4 linked regions of the Homo sapiens genome follow. The protein of the gene in region 1 purifies or fractionates together with the protein of each later gene. This does not show direct contact. Each region holds a gene or a part of one and is shown on either strand. Other genes may lie near its edges.

Evidence for each region. The genes of interacting proteins can lie anywhere in the genome.
Region 2: the proteins of HINT3 (region 1) and ESS2 purify together in Homo sapiens (affinity purification with mass spectrometry; one large-scale study listed by BioGRID and IntAct). This does not show direct contact.
Region 3: the proteins of HINT3 (region 1) and DHRS3 purify together in Homo sapiens (affinity purification with mass spectrometry; one large-scale study listed by BioGRID and IntAct). This does not show direct contact.
Region 4: the proteins of HINT3 (region 1) and NUCB1 purify together in Homo sapiens (co-immunoprecipitation; 2 studies listed by BioGRID and IntAct, with this or other methods). This does not show direct contact.

The regions. Positions count from the first base shown.
Region 1 is NC_000006.12:125,955,570-125,959,569, forward strand, and holds the start of HINT3 (adenosine 5'-monophosphoramidase HINT3), read left to right. Parts: upstream 1-1,200; 5' UTR 1,201-1,408; coding exon 1,409-1,609; intron 1,610-4,000. UniProt on the Homo sapiens protein: Exhibits adenosine 5'-monophosphoramidase activity, hydrolyzing purine nucleotide phosphoramidates with a single phosphate group such as adenosine 5'monophosphoramidate (AMP-NH2) to yield AMP and NH2.
Region 2 is NC_000022.11:19,141,852-19,145,890, reverse strand, and holds the start of ESS2 (splicing factor ESS-2 homolog), read left to right. Parts: upstream 1-1,239; 5' UTR 1,240-1,250; coding exon 1,251-1,385; intron 1,386-1,398; exon of another isoform or gene 1,399-1,767; intron 1,768-2,996; coding exon 2,997-3,165; intron 3,166-3,257; coding exon 3,258-3,353; intron 3,354-4,039. UniProt on the Homo sapiens protein: May be involved in pre-mRNA splicing.
Region 3 is NC_000001.11:12,570,311-12,573,210, forward strand, and holds part of DHRS3 (short-chain dehydrogenase/reductase 3), read right to left. Parts: intron 2,544-2,900; coding exon 2,418-2,543; intron 1-2,417. UniProt on the Homo sapiens protein: Catalyzes the reduction of all-trans-retinal to all-trans-retinol in the presence of NADPH.
Region 4 is NC_000019.10:48,920,592-48,923,872, forward strand, and holds the end of NUCB1 (nucleobindin-1 precursor), read left to right. Parts: intron 1-562; coding exon 563-733; intron 734-1,235; coding exon 1,236-1,341; intron 1,342-1,726; coding exon 1,727-1,833; 3' UTR 1,834-2,781; downstream 2,782-3,281. UniProt on the Homo sapiens protein: Major calcium-binding protein of the Golgi which may have a role in calcium homeostasis. Acts as a non-receptor guanine nucleotide exchange factor which binds to and activates alpha subunits of guanine nucleotide-binding proteins (G proteins).

The DNA of each region.
Region 1 (4,000 bases):
TTGGCAAAACTCTAATGTATTGATTCTGAACTCTGCTTTGGGGTGCTGAAAGGCAGTGAAGCTATTGTAGTGGTTCCCCAAACTACGGGCCAACTACAAAAAGGAATGAAAAATGTCTTGAATGTATATGTACAACAATTCAAAACACATACAACCACTTTTTATTACAACATAAATCCATTAAAAATCATTACTGAATTCCCAATTTGTTATGTATTTTCTAAATCAGCAAATACCAAGGGTGTAACTACTATAGTGAGCTAGTCCAACAAATTTTTTGGTGTTAAAAAAGGAGTGCTGTATGTCAAAAAGGTTGGTGGGTTTTGGAGTTAGACAAACCTTGATCTTAAACTCTGTCACTATTAATTAGTTGTGTGGGACTGGGCAACTCTGAGTTTGGTCCTTCATCTCTAGAGCGGTGGTTATAAAACCAACCTTGCGTTTTTTGACAATTAGAGAAATATATGGCATGTTTTAGATGCTCAGCAAGTGGGAAGTATCACAAAACGAAAAGCTGAGGTCAAATCAGAGTCCACCTTGAACACCAAGCTAAGGAACTGGTACTTTTTCTTTGAGCACATAGTTACAGAAGGTTTTGTCTGAGTGACAGGAAAATCAATAAGTAAGTTAGAAGGTGATTGCGTTGGTCTAGGTGAGGCATTATGAGGCACTGGCATTGAATTTCTGGGATATTTCAGAGTATTGACTATAGGACTCCACATCTACTTGTATATGAGGAATGTGAGATTAAAAAAAAGGTCGCTAGTTTGATCTAACTGTGCTGTTAACAACAATAAAAAGTCAACAGAGATGTAAAGGTCAGTTTTGGACATTTTGAGTTTAAACTCCTACAATTATCGTGGCTGAAAAAGCAGCAAACATGATGTCTGTTGAAAACAAGGCTTTAGGAATTTTGCTCATTCTTTAAAAACCTACGAATTTTAAAAATCAAACTTTAAAAAACTTTTTGTTTTTTTTTTTAAAAAAACGGCAGCGTAATACAATATTTGGACACGCTATACTATGGGCTTTGAAGAACGCCTGTCCAGAACACCCAACAAGCTCCATTATGTCAAACGCTCCCGCGCCTCTGTGATGTCACCACGACGCGCTGGGCGCTCTGCGACTTGGCAGACGTCGTGCGTCATTACCAACGAGGCGCAGGGGTCAGGACGACTCTCGGCAGCGCCATTGCGCGCCCTCTAGTGGCAGCCGGTTTTGAGGCCGGCCTCCGGCTTTGAAGTTCCTCACCGCGTCTCCTTCCCTCTCCCCAAAGCCTGGATCACCGCCCAGCGTCAGGCGAGGGGCGACGTCTCGAGGTAAAACGGAGGAGGTGCGGGACGCGGAGACTGCGCGGGCCCGGTAGCCCTGGAGAGGCCGAGGCTCTAGGCCGCGAGGGGCGGGTGCAATGGCGGAGGAACAGGTGAACCGCAGCGCCGGCCTGGCCCCCGACTGTGAGGCCTCGGCGACTGCAGAAACTACGGTTTCCTCAGTGGGGACCTGTGAAGCCGCTGGCAAGTCACCAGAGCCCAAGGACTACGACAGCACCTGCGTGTTCTGCCGGATCGCGGGGCGGCAGGACCCGGGCACCGAACTCCTGCACTGCGAGGTGGGCGGCGACGCGCGGCCGGGGGTGGGTGAGGACCTGGCCGCCCCTCGGAGCTCCGGCAGGGAGGCCTCGCCGTTGTGGAGCGGGTGCAGAGGATCCCGATCGCTACTCAGCTCGCAGAGGCAGGGCCGCTCTGTGTGGATGGGGCTCGGGGAAGCTGGGGATACGCCCACTACGGGCCTTTCTGCAGGGTCCGGGTGCTGATGACAGACTCACTCCTAGGGGACTGACAGGCAGTGGCTCCAGCGGTATCTTTGCTGTTCCCAGGGGCAAAGAGTGAATGACAGGGCCGAATGCTTTGGCCTATGTTTGCAGGTACCCAGGTAGTTGGTACAAATAACATTTTGTGGCCTCTGCTTTTATTACAAGGATTCTTCTCCACCTTCAAGATACTGATTTTAAATCCTGCACACTCTAATACCGATACTGATGAGAAAACTAGTAGAAAATAGGTAATGATAATTGTGGAAAGCTGTTTGTTAGATTGGCAGAAAATAGGCTGGAGGGAGTGGGTCTGAGGTCAAACTATTATTGAATTGCCTCTGAATTCCACTGTCAGTTGGGATGCGTGGACATTTTCAGAGCATGAAGACTTTGCCCAGATATTTTTAAACGGATAATCTGGCACACACTTTATTCTGTTGGTTTTACTTGTCCATATAGAAACAACTTTTTGAGAGAATTAGCTCCAAAGATTGTGTCTTTTGTAGTAAACATTCCTTTATTTTTTAAAAAATAAATATAATTCCTTCTAAGCACCTTGTTTTGGAGGTTTTTGAGCAAGATAAGGGACAGTCTGTGTCCCGATTTTACAATCTAAAGGGCGGAATGTATACAGAGGAGGTAGCCAGTTACAATGCCTCGTGCTGTGGTCAGGTGATTTTACAGTATTTTGTAAGCTTGTGGGAGGAGCATCTAACCCAGCTCTGAAGAATTAGGGAAGGCTTTCCAGAGGAAATGAGACATGAAGAAATAAGTAGGAGTTGATCAGATGAGGAAATGGAGAGAATAATGTCCCAGGTTGAGAGACCCCCCGAGAGGTTCAGTTTGTGTGATAGAAAAACTAACAGAAATTGTCTAACTAGTGCATAGAGTTTGAGAGGATGAAAGGCGAGGCTGGAGAGGTAAACAAGGGACCAGATTATTAAGTGTGTTGGAAGTCATGTGAAGGAATTTGTCTTTATCTGAAGAGCAAAGTGAAACTTCACAATGTTTAATGGTGGGTTGGGAGGAAGATGTTGCGGAGTTATAGGAAGGGGGTTGATCTTTGAAAGGTCATTCTGGCATCATTGTGGAGAATGATTTGGAGGAGACCAGTCTGGAGGTATGGAGACCCGTTAGAAGGCTAGTAGATTAATCTACCCTGATGATGGCCTGAAATGAGAATGTGGTAGAGGAGATTATGAAAAGTATATCAATTTAAGGGATACAGTATTCAGGAGGTAAAACAGGGAGGACTTGATGGATACAGGTCAGTGATTCTCAACTGGGGGCAATTTTGCCCTCCCAGGGTACATTTTGCAATGTATTGAGATACTTTTGATTGTAACAACTTCTGGCACTTCTAGGGGTTGCTTCTGGGACCTAAATAATGGATAAAAGCCAGGGTTGCTATTAACATGGTACAGTGCACAGGACAGCACCCCCACCACCCCATCAACACACACACATAAAACAGGCTTATCCAGCCCTCAAAATGTCAGAAGTGCCAAGGTTTAGAAACCCTGATTTAGATATAAGAGGATAAGGAAATGAAAGAGGGTGAAGTCAAAGATGATTTCCAGGTTTCTGGCTAGGGTAAACTAGTAGTGGTGGTACCATTTCATTAAGCTCGGGAACACAGGAGGAGAAAAGATGGCCAGGGGAGTGGTGGGAGGTAGCAAAGCGATGAGTTGAGCTATGGAGTTGTGGAGTTTGAGGTGAGTTTGAGGCATCTAAGTAGAGATGTCTTTTAAATGGTTGGATAGTCTAGCACTCTGTAGAGGGATCTGTATCTCTAACCCAGATTACAGGAACTGTCGGTTTATAGATGGAAACTGAAAAAGAAGGGAAGCGATGAGATCACCCATGAGGTAAAAAGTGAAGGGGAGGCCTACACAGAACTCTGAAGAACACTAACATCATAAGGGACAGACAGAGGAAGAGGACCTGGAAAGGGAATAGAGAAGGAACAGAGAAATAGAAGGAACGCTGGAAAGGCTAAGAGAAGGGAGTATGTCAAAAAGAAAGGAATTGCCAGCAATGTCAGCAGCAATATTAGCCTGCCTTCATCCTCAAATCTGGGTTAGATGACCCTTGTATGTCCTTGCAGAGTCAGAGCAGGACTGGTTGTGTCCCCAAAGTGATGTTCATTGACCTTGAGGAGAGCAATTTCATGAAGTGGTGAAGCAA
Region 2 (4,039 bases), on another chromosome or scaffold:
TACCACCACTTTGTATTTTTTTTTTTTTTTAGTAGAGTTGGGGTTTCACCATGTTGGCCAGGCTGGTCTCAATCTCCTGACTTCAAGTGATCCACCTGCCTGGGTCTCCCAAAGTGCTGAGGTTACAGGCGTGAGCCACCGTGCCTGGTCTTGAATGAGAATGATCCCTCTTCTGGGAAGCCCACTCTGGCATTTGGGGGCCCAATAATCTTTTTTTTTTTTTTGACAGAGTTTTGCTCTTGTTACCCAGGCTGGAGTGCAATGGTGCAATCTCAGCTCACTGCAACCTCCGCCTCCTGGGTTCAAGCAATTCTCCAGCCTCAGCCTTCCGAGTAGCTGGGATTACAGGCGTCCACCACCATGCCCAGCTAATTTTTTTGTGTGTTTTTAGTAGAGATGGGGTTTCATCTTGTTGGCCAGGCTGGTCTAGAACTCCTGACCTCAGGTGATCCGCCTGTCTTGGCCTCTCAAAGTTCTGGGATTACAGAATAATCTTTAGACATTTCTTAATCGAACCACTGTCTTGTTCTTTCACCTTTTGTTAGATAACTATAAAAAAAAAAAAAAGATTGTTTTGGCCGGGTGCGGTGGCTCACGCCTGTAATCCAGAGACCAGCCTGACCAACATAGAGAAACCCTGTCTCTACTAAAAATGCAAAATTAGCCGGGCGTGGTGGCCCATGCCTGTAATCCCAGCTACTCGGGAGGCTGAGGCAGGAGAATCCCTTGAACCCGGGAACTCCGGTGAGCCGAGATCATGCCATTGCACTCCAGCCTGGGCAACAAGACCGAAACTCCGTCTCAAAAAAAAAATTGTTTTAAGGCCCTTTTCTTGCATAAAGCTTGAAACTCCTATATAAGTAAATTTCCTGGTTTGTATTTTTGTAGAATAATCTCGAAGCATACATAGTTCTTATTTGTGGGAAATTAGAATTCTAAGGCCTTTGGACGCTGCAAAGCCAGAATTTCTCGCGTGAAGAACACGCCCTATAGCATCCTCCCCGCCACCTCCACAGCACCCCCTCGTGTTCACAGCATTGACAAGCATGAATAGCGCGGGGCAGGACAAGGACTACATTTCCAATAAAGTCTAGCATTTATAGTGACGTCAGAACGGAGCGCGGGCTGGCTTTCTAGAGCCACAGCTTTTCCATTGGCCAACTATTGGAGGCGCCTGCGCAAATGGTGCAGTCCCGCCCCCTCCACCCTGTGACGCGCCTGCTGGGCCCGAGCTTTTTCCTGGGATAGCGATGGAGACGCCGGGCGCATCAGCGTCGTCCTTGTTGCTTCCCGCCGCGTCCAGGCCCCCGAGGAAGCGCGAGGCGGGAGAGGCTGGGGCTGCGACGAGCAAGCAGCGGGTCCTGGACGAGGAAGAGTATATCGAGGTACGACCTCGGTGCGGACGCCGGCGACTTCTGGGCCCATCCTCTGCTTCAAGCTCCTCTCAGGTTCCCTCTCTCGGGTGTTGACACTCCGTCTCCTCGTGGAAGTGGAGGAGCCGGGTGTGGACGGTCCCACGAGTCAAGTAAACAGGGCAGAGGAAGACGTCTGTGGTGGAAGAGGCTGTAGTAGTGTTGTCAGGGAAAAGAGAGAGCGGCTCTCTTTGTATGGGACGGGGGTCAGGGAAAGAAGATTTTCTGTTAAAGTGTGAGTAGGAGTTTGACAAACTGGAAGGATGGTGGCAAAGAGGGCTTTCTAAAGAGCGGTGGCAGCAAGTGTGAATGCTGGGGTTCCTGGAAAGAGACCGCAGTTGTGACAGCATCTCGAGTGAGTGGACCTGCGTCGCCCCACCACACGCACACAGAAGGAGGAGCTGAAACGGGGATTGGCGGAAGTCAGTTTGGTTTTAGACCTGTTTAATTCGGGACACCTTTTGGGATATGTAGATGGATGGCTTTAACGGACGGTTGGGTGCCCAGATATGCAGCTCGGGAGCAAGGTCTGGCTGGAGGTGCAGACTTGGGAATCTCAACTTGTGGTAGTGACTGGCTGAAGTTACTCAGGAAAAAGGTTTATTTTTATTTTATTTTTTGAGACGGAGTCTCGCTCGTCGTCCAGGCTGGAGTGCAGTGGCGCGATCTCGGCTTACTGTAACCAACCTCTGCCTCCTGGGTTCAAGCCATTCTCCTGCCTCAGCCTGCCGAGTAGCTGTGACTACAGGTGCCCGCCACCACGCCCGGCTAATTTTTGTATTTTTAGTAGTGGTGGGGTTTCACCATGTTGGCCAGGCTGGTCTCGAACTCCTGACCTCAGGTGATCCGCCCGCCTTGGCCTCTCAAAGTGCTGGGATTACAGGCGTGAGCTACCATGCCCCGCCAGGAGAAAGGTTTAGATTGGAAATAGAAAGTCATGTGTGGAATGAAAGTGACAACACCCACATTGGTCTGGCTTGTGGGGAGCCAGCAATGGAGAATGAGAATGACCAGTTAGCAAGGGCGAGAGAGAAGGGTTTCACGGACTTCAGAAGAGTGTTTAGTAATGTTAGAGGTTGCAGCATGGCTACCATATGGGATGCTCAACCCCACTAGAAAGTGCCCTCAAGCTCCCTCAATCCAGCCCCAGTCATTGGGGAAGTAGAATTTGAAGGAGGTTCAGCAAGTTCCTTAGCATGTACAGCAGTGGACCTGTGAGGCAGGAGCACCCAGACTGCAGCTCCGACTTTCTTTTTTCTTTTTTTTTTTTTTTTTTGAGACGGTCTCGCTCTGTCGCCCAGGCTGGAGTGCAGGGGTGTGATCTTGGCTCACTGCAACCTCCGCCTCCCGAGTTTAAGCGATTCTTCTGCTTCAGCCTCCCACGTAGCTGGAATTACAGGTGCCTGCCACCACGCCCGGCTAATTTTTGTATTTCTAGTAGAGACTGGGTTTCACCATGTTGGCCAGGCTGGTCTTGAACTTCTGACCTCATGATCCACCTCCCTTGGCCTCCCAAAGTGTTGGGATTACAGGTGTGAGCCACCGCGCCTGGCCTCTGACTTTCATTCTGATCTCTCCTTGCAGGGCCTCCAGACGGTCATCCAAAGGGATTTCTTTCCTGATGTGGAGAAGCTCCAGGCACAGAAGGAGTACCTGGAAGCCGAGGAGAATGGAGACTTGGAACGGATGCGCCAGATTGCCATCAAGTTTGGCTCTGCCTTGGGCAAGATGTCCCGGGAGCCCCCGCCACCCTGTATGAGGACCCTGTGGGTGGCGGAGAGGGGAAAGCCTGCTGAACTGTCGCTTCAGGCTCACTCTAATTCTTATCCCCCTCTCTTCCCCTAGATGTGACTCCAGCCACATTTGAAACCCCTGAGGTGCATGCAGGCACTGGAGTGGTGGGCAACAAGCCCAGGCCCCGCGGCCGAGGCCTGGAGGATGGTGAGTGAGGGTGCCCTCTTTAAGTCACATGGTCAGGATTGCCTGGGAATCTTAGCCTGTGAGGCCCTGAGGGGGTGGTCCAGAGGGCTGCAGGCCACATCTTGTTCCTGAGGGGTCTTGCGTAAATAGCAGCCTGTGAAGTCAAAGGACATTGGTCTAGGTGGTAGAACATCTGGGTCCAGCTCCCACACATGGCTCGCCTCTGTGAAATGGGACTCTCACCAGCTCTTGCTGGCTTTTCTGCTGTGTTCCAGCCCTGCCCTGTGGGCTTCATGGATGTTGGAAGGCCCCTTTTGTTACTATCCTGAAGATGCCTCAGGGCCTCTCCATTTGTTTCCTTCATGTTGGTCACTTCCCAGATAACTGCATGGCTCACTGTGTTTCTTCCTGTAGATCTCTGCATAGGTGTTACCTGTTCAGAGAAACTTTTCTTGACCTGCCAGTGTGAAGTCACAACACCACTGGTGCTCTGTGGCTTCCAGCCTGGCTTTGGTTTTTCATCACAAGACATTTTATTTTATTTAATTTCATTTTATTTTTAATTTTTTGACACAGAGTCTCGCTCTGTCACCCAGGCTGGAGTAAAATGGTGTGATCCCGGCTCACTGCAACCTCCACCTCCCAGGTTCAAGCAATTCTCCCTGCCTTAGCCTCCCAAATAGCTGGGATTACAGGCGCCTGCCACC
Region 3 (2,900 bases), on another chromosome or scaffold:
AGCCTGTGGGGGCCTTCATGGCGGGTATTTCATCTCTGATCCCCAGGCCCTCACATGGGCCCGGCACAGAGAGGGCCCTCAGGCTGTTTGGTGACTCAAACTGAAGGGTCCTGGCCCACTCTAAGTACAAGATGAAAAGGGTTCACTTCCAGCTGGAGCAATCTGGAAGGCTTCCTGGGGGTGGTGGTATTAGAGTTGAGCCTTGCTTTCTCCTGGGGAAGGTGAGGAGGGATGCAGTTCAGAGAATGGGGAGCGGGGTGGCTCCTGCTTCCTGTTCAAAAGTAGTTGTGGGGAAGGTTGGAAAATGAAGGCTGAGGGCTTACTGTGGAGAGCGCTGAGGTGTTCTAGACCAACTTTTCTCTAGAAAGCTCTGGAAGTCTTCTAAGAAGCTCCCCTGAGGTGGAGGGTGGCAGCCTGACCTCAGTGAGGACCTGAGCCCCTGATCAACTAGGGGCTCCTAGAGACGGCTGAGGAGCATCTCAGACCCGAGGTCAGGATGGACTGAGGGAGGCCGAGGTGTGGCCTGGATGCCCCTGGGTGCCCCCTTCCCTGTGCCTCTGAAAGGGCTTTGAGTTTGGGGAAGAGAGGGCTGATCGGGCTTGCGCCTCAGTTTCGAGGTTTCTGTGCCCTGCATGTGTTGGGGCAGCCCCTCAGCTGGGGCTCACCATGTCCCAGCAGCCAGGGCAGAAGTTGGCTTTCCTGGGAGTGCATGTTGCATGAGAGCAGGGGCCAGCCTGGCACTTGGGGGCTTACCTTCCTGAAAAGGACTTCCAGGTCAGAGGGGCTCAGTCAGGAGGGGGCCAGAGCCCCAGGGGAGCCAAGAGCCCATGGTCACTTGTGGCACCAGGGACAAGGATCTCCTGCTGTACTAAGAGGCCCAAGAAAACTGAGTGTGGGACTGGGATGGGAAGGATTTGCTGCACAAAGCCTGGAAAGTTCTAGGGGAATAGGATGCCAGGCAAATTCTGGAGGAGGAGTCTCTCATTTATAAAGCCTGCCTCCCCAAAGTGGTCTGCCCTGCTACATCCCACCCGACTGGTACTAAGACGCTTCTGTGAATTCTGAGCCCTTGGCATCAAGATCCCCATGTTCCCTCTAATAGTAAACTTCCTGAGGGCAGGGGCTATGTCCAATAGGCTGTAGAACAGTGGTTCTCAAAGTGAGGTCCAGGAACCTTTGGGGTACCCGGGATCTCTTCAGGGGTCTGTGAGGTCAATTTTTTTTTTTTTTTTTTTTTGAGACGGAGTCTTGTTCTTGTTGCCCAGGCTGGAGTGCGGTGGTGCGATCTCGGCTCACCTCAACCTCTGCCTCCTGGGTTCCGGCAATTTTCCTGCCTCAGCCTCCCAGGTAGCTGGGATTACAGGCACACGCCACCACACCCAGCTAATTTTTTTTGTATTTTTAGTACAGACAGGGTTTCTCCATGTTGGTCAGGCTGGTCTCGAACTCCCAACCTCAGGTGATCCACCCACCTCGGCCTCCCAAAGTGCTGGGATTACAGGCGTGAGCCACCGTGCCCGGCCACATTGTTTCTGTAATAATACTAAGATGTTATTTGTCTTTTCACTTTCATTCTCTCAGTGAATGGTAGAATTTTCCAGAGGCTACGTGACACGAGATATCACAACAAATTGAAATCAGATGCACATATAAGAATCCAATTGTCTTCAATTAAGCCAAACAAAGAGATTTGCAAAAAGGTAGAACAATGCCACTCCTGACTACATTTATTTTGTTTTAGAATACATAACTAGTTGTCATAAAAATATATTTATATTAATGTAATGGGTTTGTTATAGCTATTTATAAATGAATAAATATTATAAACAAATGTATACAACTTACAACATTTTTCTGGCTTTTAATTTCTTTTTTGAGATGGAGTCTTGCTGAGTCACCCAGGCTGGAGTGCAGTGGCACGATCTCGGCTCACTGCAAGCTCCACCTCCTGGGTTCACACCATTCTCCTGCCTCAGCCTCCCGAGTAGCTAAGACTACAGGCGCCCACCACCATGCCCAGCTACTTTCTTTTTGTATTTTTAGTAGAGACAAGGTTTCGCCATTTTAGCCAGGATGGTCTCAATCTCTTGACCTCGTGATCCACCTGCCTCGGCCTCCCAAAGTGCTAGGATTACAGGCGTGAGCCACTGCGCCTGGCCCTGGCTTTTAATTTCTAATATAGTAAATAGCGATAGCTACAACTCACATTAACAAAAGCTCTTTGGGTTCCTCCATACTTTTTAAAACTCTAAGGGGCCCCGTGACTAACAAGTTTGAGAACTGCTGCCCCACAGTAAGTACAGTACATCAGCAGCAAATGTGCCAGCACTCCTCATGCTCATGCCCGCAGCAGACATGACTAATAGATCACATGCGTACTTTCCCCTGACCCAGAGTGTTCTTTCCCAGCCCCATACCTTTTCAAGATAACGAGGGCATGCATTGTCCATGGGAGGAGGAGGAGGGCCTGGTTGAGCTGCACAGCTTCCACTGTCCTCCGGGCCACCGTCTCCGGCTTCAGTGGGGGAAAGAGGTTGGGAAACCTGAACACAGGAAGAGACACAGTGGGTTTCTCCTGGAGAGGCATGTGCTTATCTGGAAGTCTTTATGAGGCTGACATGTCTGGGTCACCCTTTGGCTTTTCCTGTCTGAGAGATTCGAGGCCTGCTTGGAATACTCCCTCTACCCCACACCCATCCAGGTGCCACATTCCCTCACTCCTCCAGGCACACAGGGGTCTCTTCTTGAGTCAAGGACTTCTAGCCCACCCACTGGGGACCCACTCTCCCAAGCCCTCCAAGGGCTCCCAGTGCCCTAGGGCTTGGCCTTTCCATGGCCCTGCGTAATCTGGGCCCTGGTTGTCCTTCTGAGTCCTTTTCCCTACACTCTGCTCCTTCAGG
Region 4 (3,281 bases), on another chromosome or scaffold:
CAGCTCATTGCAACCTCCACCTCCCAGGTTCAAGCAATTCTCCTGCCTCAGCCTCCTGAGTAGCTGGGATTATATGCATGTACCACCATGCCCTGCTCATTTTGTATTTTTAGTAGAGACGGGGTTTCTCCATGTTGGTCAGGCTCATCTCAAACTACTGACCTCAGGTGAGCCACCCACCTCGGCCTCCGAAAGTGCTGGGATTACAGGTGTGAGCCATGGTGCCTGGCCTATTTCTATATATTTTTCAAGATGCCCAGCCAATTTTCTGTAGAGACAGGGTCTCGCTCCGTTGCCCAGGCTGACCTTGAACTCCTGGCGTCAAGTGATCCTTCCCACTTTCGCCTCCCAAAGTCCTGGGATTACAGGTGGGAGCCATGGTGCCCGGCCTTGTCTCTCGGTCTTTATCCCACTCCCACCTCCCACTTGGGCTTCTTTGCCCACCCACATGGCCCTGGCCTCCCAGCCTCCTCTACACCTCCCCCATTGGCACAACCCTCTCCAACATGGGTGGGCCGAGGTTGGACCTGTGCCCCTGATGGCCCCTGTGCCTGCCCTGCAGACAGTGGAGATGCACCCTGCCTACACCGAGGAAGAGCTGAGGCGCTTTGAAGAGGAGCTGGCTGCCCGGGAGGCAGAGCTGAATGCCAAGGCCCAGCGCCTCAGCCAGGAGACAGAGGCTCTAGGGCGGTCCCAGGGCCGCCTGGAGGCCCAGAAGAGAGAGCTGCAGCAGGTGACAGCGGGGGAAGCTGCTTCCATCCACTGAATCTCTGGCTGCCCGTGTCCGTGTCCCCATGGGTGTCCAGAAGCTGGGAAGGCCTGTGGCCACCATGTTAATCACTGGGGGAGCCTCAAGTATTCACCGCCATCTTGAGTAAGGGCAGACGTTTTCCCGTCTCTGACGGCTCTGTGGCTGCCATGTGAGATAAGGGCATTAAGGCTGTAAGTGAGGAGGGAAAGGCCCAGGAGGGGGAGAAAGGCAGACTCAGCCAGGGATGGGTGAGGGTTTCCCTGTCCCAAAGCAAGACCCAAGCTGTGACTGGAGGGAGAACTGGATCCTTGACTATTATTAAGCCCGACTGTCAATGAAAGAGAGAAACTGAGGCCCACGGAGAAGGGGTTGGCCGTGACCACTTAGCAGGCTGCTGTGAAGTCTCCGTTTGGGGACTGAGGCCTGAGCACTTGCAATGCCAGCATCACACCCTCTTGTCTGTGTGACCCCCCACCTCCCACAGGCTGTGCTGCACATGGAGCAGCGGAAGCAGCAGCAGCAGCAGCAGCAAGGCCACAAGGCCCCGGCTGCCCACCCTGAGGGGCAGCTCAAGTTCCACCCAGACACAGGTGCTGGCCCTAGTCCAGGGAGGAGGGGCTGCAGGGCTGGACCCCTGGGTCTGAGGTTGGAGGGGCTGGGCCTGGACTCCCAGATCTGAGGGAAGAGGGACTGGGGGCCCAGACTCCCAGATCTGAGGGAAGAGGGACTGGGGGTCCGGACTCCTGGGTCTGAGGGAGGAGGGGCTGGGGGCTGGGACCCCTGGGTGTGAGGGAGGAGGGGCTGGGACCCCTGGGTGTGAGTGAGGAGGGGCTGGGGGCTGGACCCCTGGGTGTGAGGGAGGAGGGGCTGGGGGCTGGACCCCTGGGTGTGAGGGAGGAGGGGCTGGGCCTCTGGGGTCCTGGGGGAGGAGGGGTTCGGATGTCCTGTGCCACCATTCCCTCCCTCCATTTCCAGACGATGTACCTGTCCCAGCTCCAGCCGGTGACCAGAAGGAGGTGGACACTTCAGAAAAGAAACTTCTCGAGCGGCTCCCTGAGGTTGAGGTGCCCCAGCATCTGTGATCCTCCGGGACCCCAGCCCTCAGGATTCCTGATGCTCCAAGGCGACTGATGGGCGCTGGATGAAGTGGCACAGTCAGCTTCCCTGGGGGCTGGTGTCATGTTGGGCTCCTGGGGCGGGGGCACGGCCTGGCATTTCACGCATTGCTGCCACCCCAGGTCCACCTGTCTCCACTTTCACAGCCTCCAAGTCTGTGGCTCTTCCCTTCTGTCCTCCGAGGGGCTTGCCTTCTCTCGTGTCCAGTGAGGTGCTCAGTGATCGGCTTAACTTAGAGAAGCCCGCCCCCTCCCCTTCTCCGTCTGTCCCAAGAGGGTCTGCTCTGAGCCTGCGTTCCTAGGTGGCTCGGCCTCAGCTGCCTGGGTTGTGGCCGCCCTAGCATCCTGTATGCCCACAGCTACTGGAATCCCCGCTGCTGCTCCGGGCCAAGCTTCTGGTTGATTAATGAGGGCATGGGGTGGTCCCTCAAGACCTTCCCCTACCTTTTGTGGAACCAGTGATGCCTCAAAGACAGTGTCCCCTCCACAGCTGGGTGCCAGGGGCAGGGGATCCTCAGTATAGCCGGTGAACCCTGATACCAGGAGCCTGGGCCTCCCTGAACCCCTGGCTTCCAGCCATCTCATCGCCAGCCTCCTCCTGGACCTCTTGGCCCCCAGCCCCTTCCCCACACAGCCCCAGAAGGGTCCCAGAGCTGACCCCACTCCAGGACCTAGGCCCAGCCCCTCAGCCTCATCTGGAGCCCCTGAAGACCAGTCCCACCCACCTTTCTGGCCTCATCTGACACTGCTCCGCATCCTGCTGTGTGTCCTGTTCCATGTTCCGGTTCCATCCAAATACACTTTCTGGAACAAATGCATGGCTCCATGCCTGTGTATCTGGACTGGTCCCTCCAAAACGCTATTGCCACGTCACCTGCCGGAGTCCTCATCTTTGAAGACTGGATTCAAGCATCACTTCTGAGAGGCTCAATCCTGGTATTTTTCCATCTGCCCCTGATGAGTCTGCAGCCTTCACTCAGGGTCCCTTCAGCCACAAGGACAGAAAACCCAAACCTGGGATTAAGCAATTTTTTTTTTTTTTTTTTTTGAGATGGAGTCTTACTCTGTCACCCAGGCTGGAGGGCAGTGGTGTAATCTCAGCTCACTGCAACCTCTGCCTTTTGGGATCAAGCGATTCTCCTGCCTCCGCCTCCCGAGTAGCTGGGATTACAGCTGCCTGCCACCACGCCCGGCCTTCTAATTTTTGCATTGTTTTAGTAGTGATGGGGGTTTCACCATATTGGCCAGGCTGGTCTTGAACTCCTGACATCATGATCTGCCCACCTTAGCCTCCCAAAGTGCTGGGATTACAGGAGTGAGCCACTGCACCTGGCCGGGATTAAGCAACTTTTAAAAGATGAATTTGGCCAGGTGCTGTGGCTCACGCCTGTAATCCCAACACTTCGAAAGGCCAA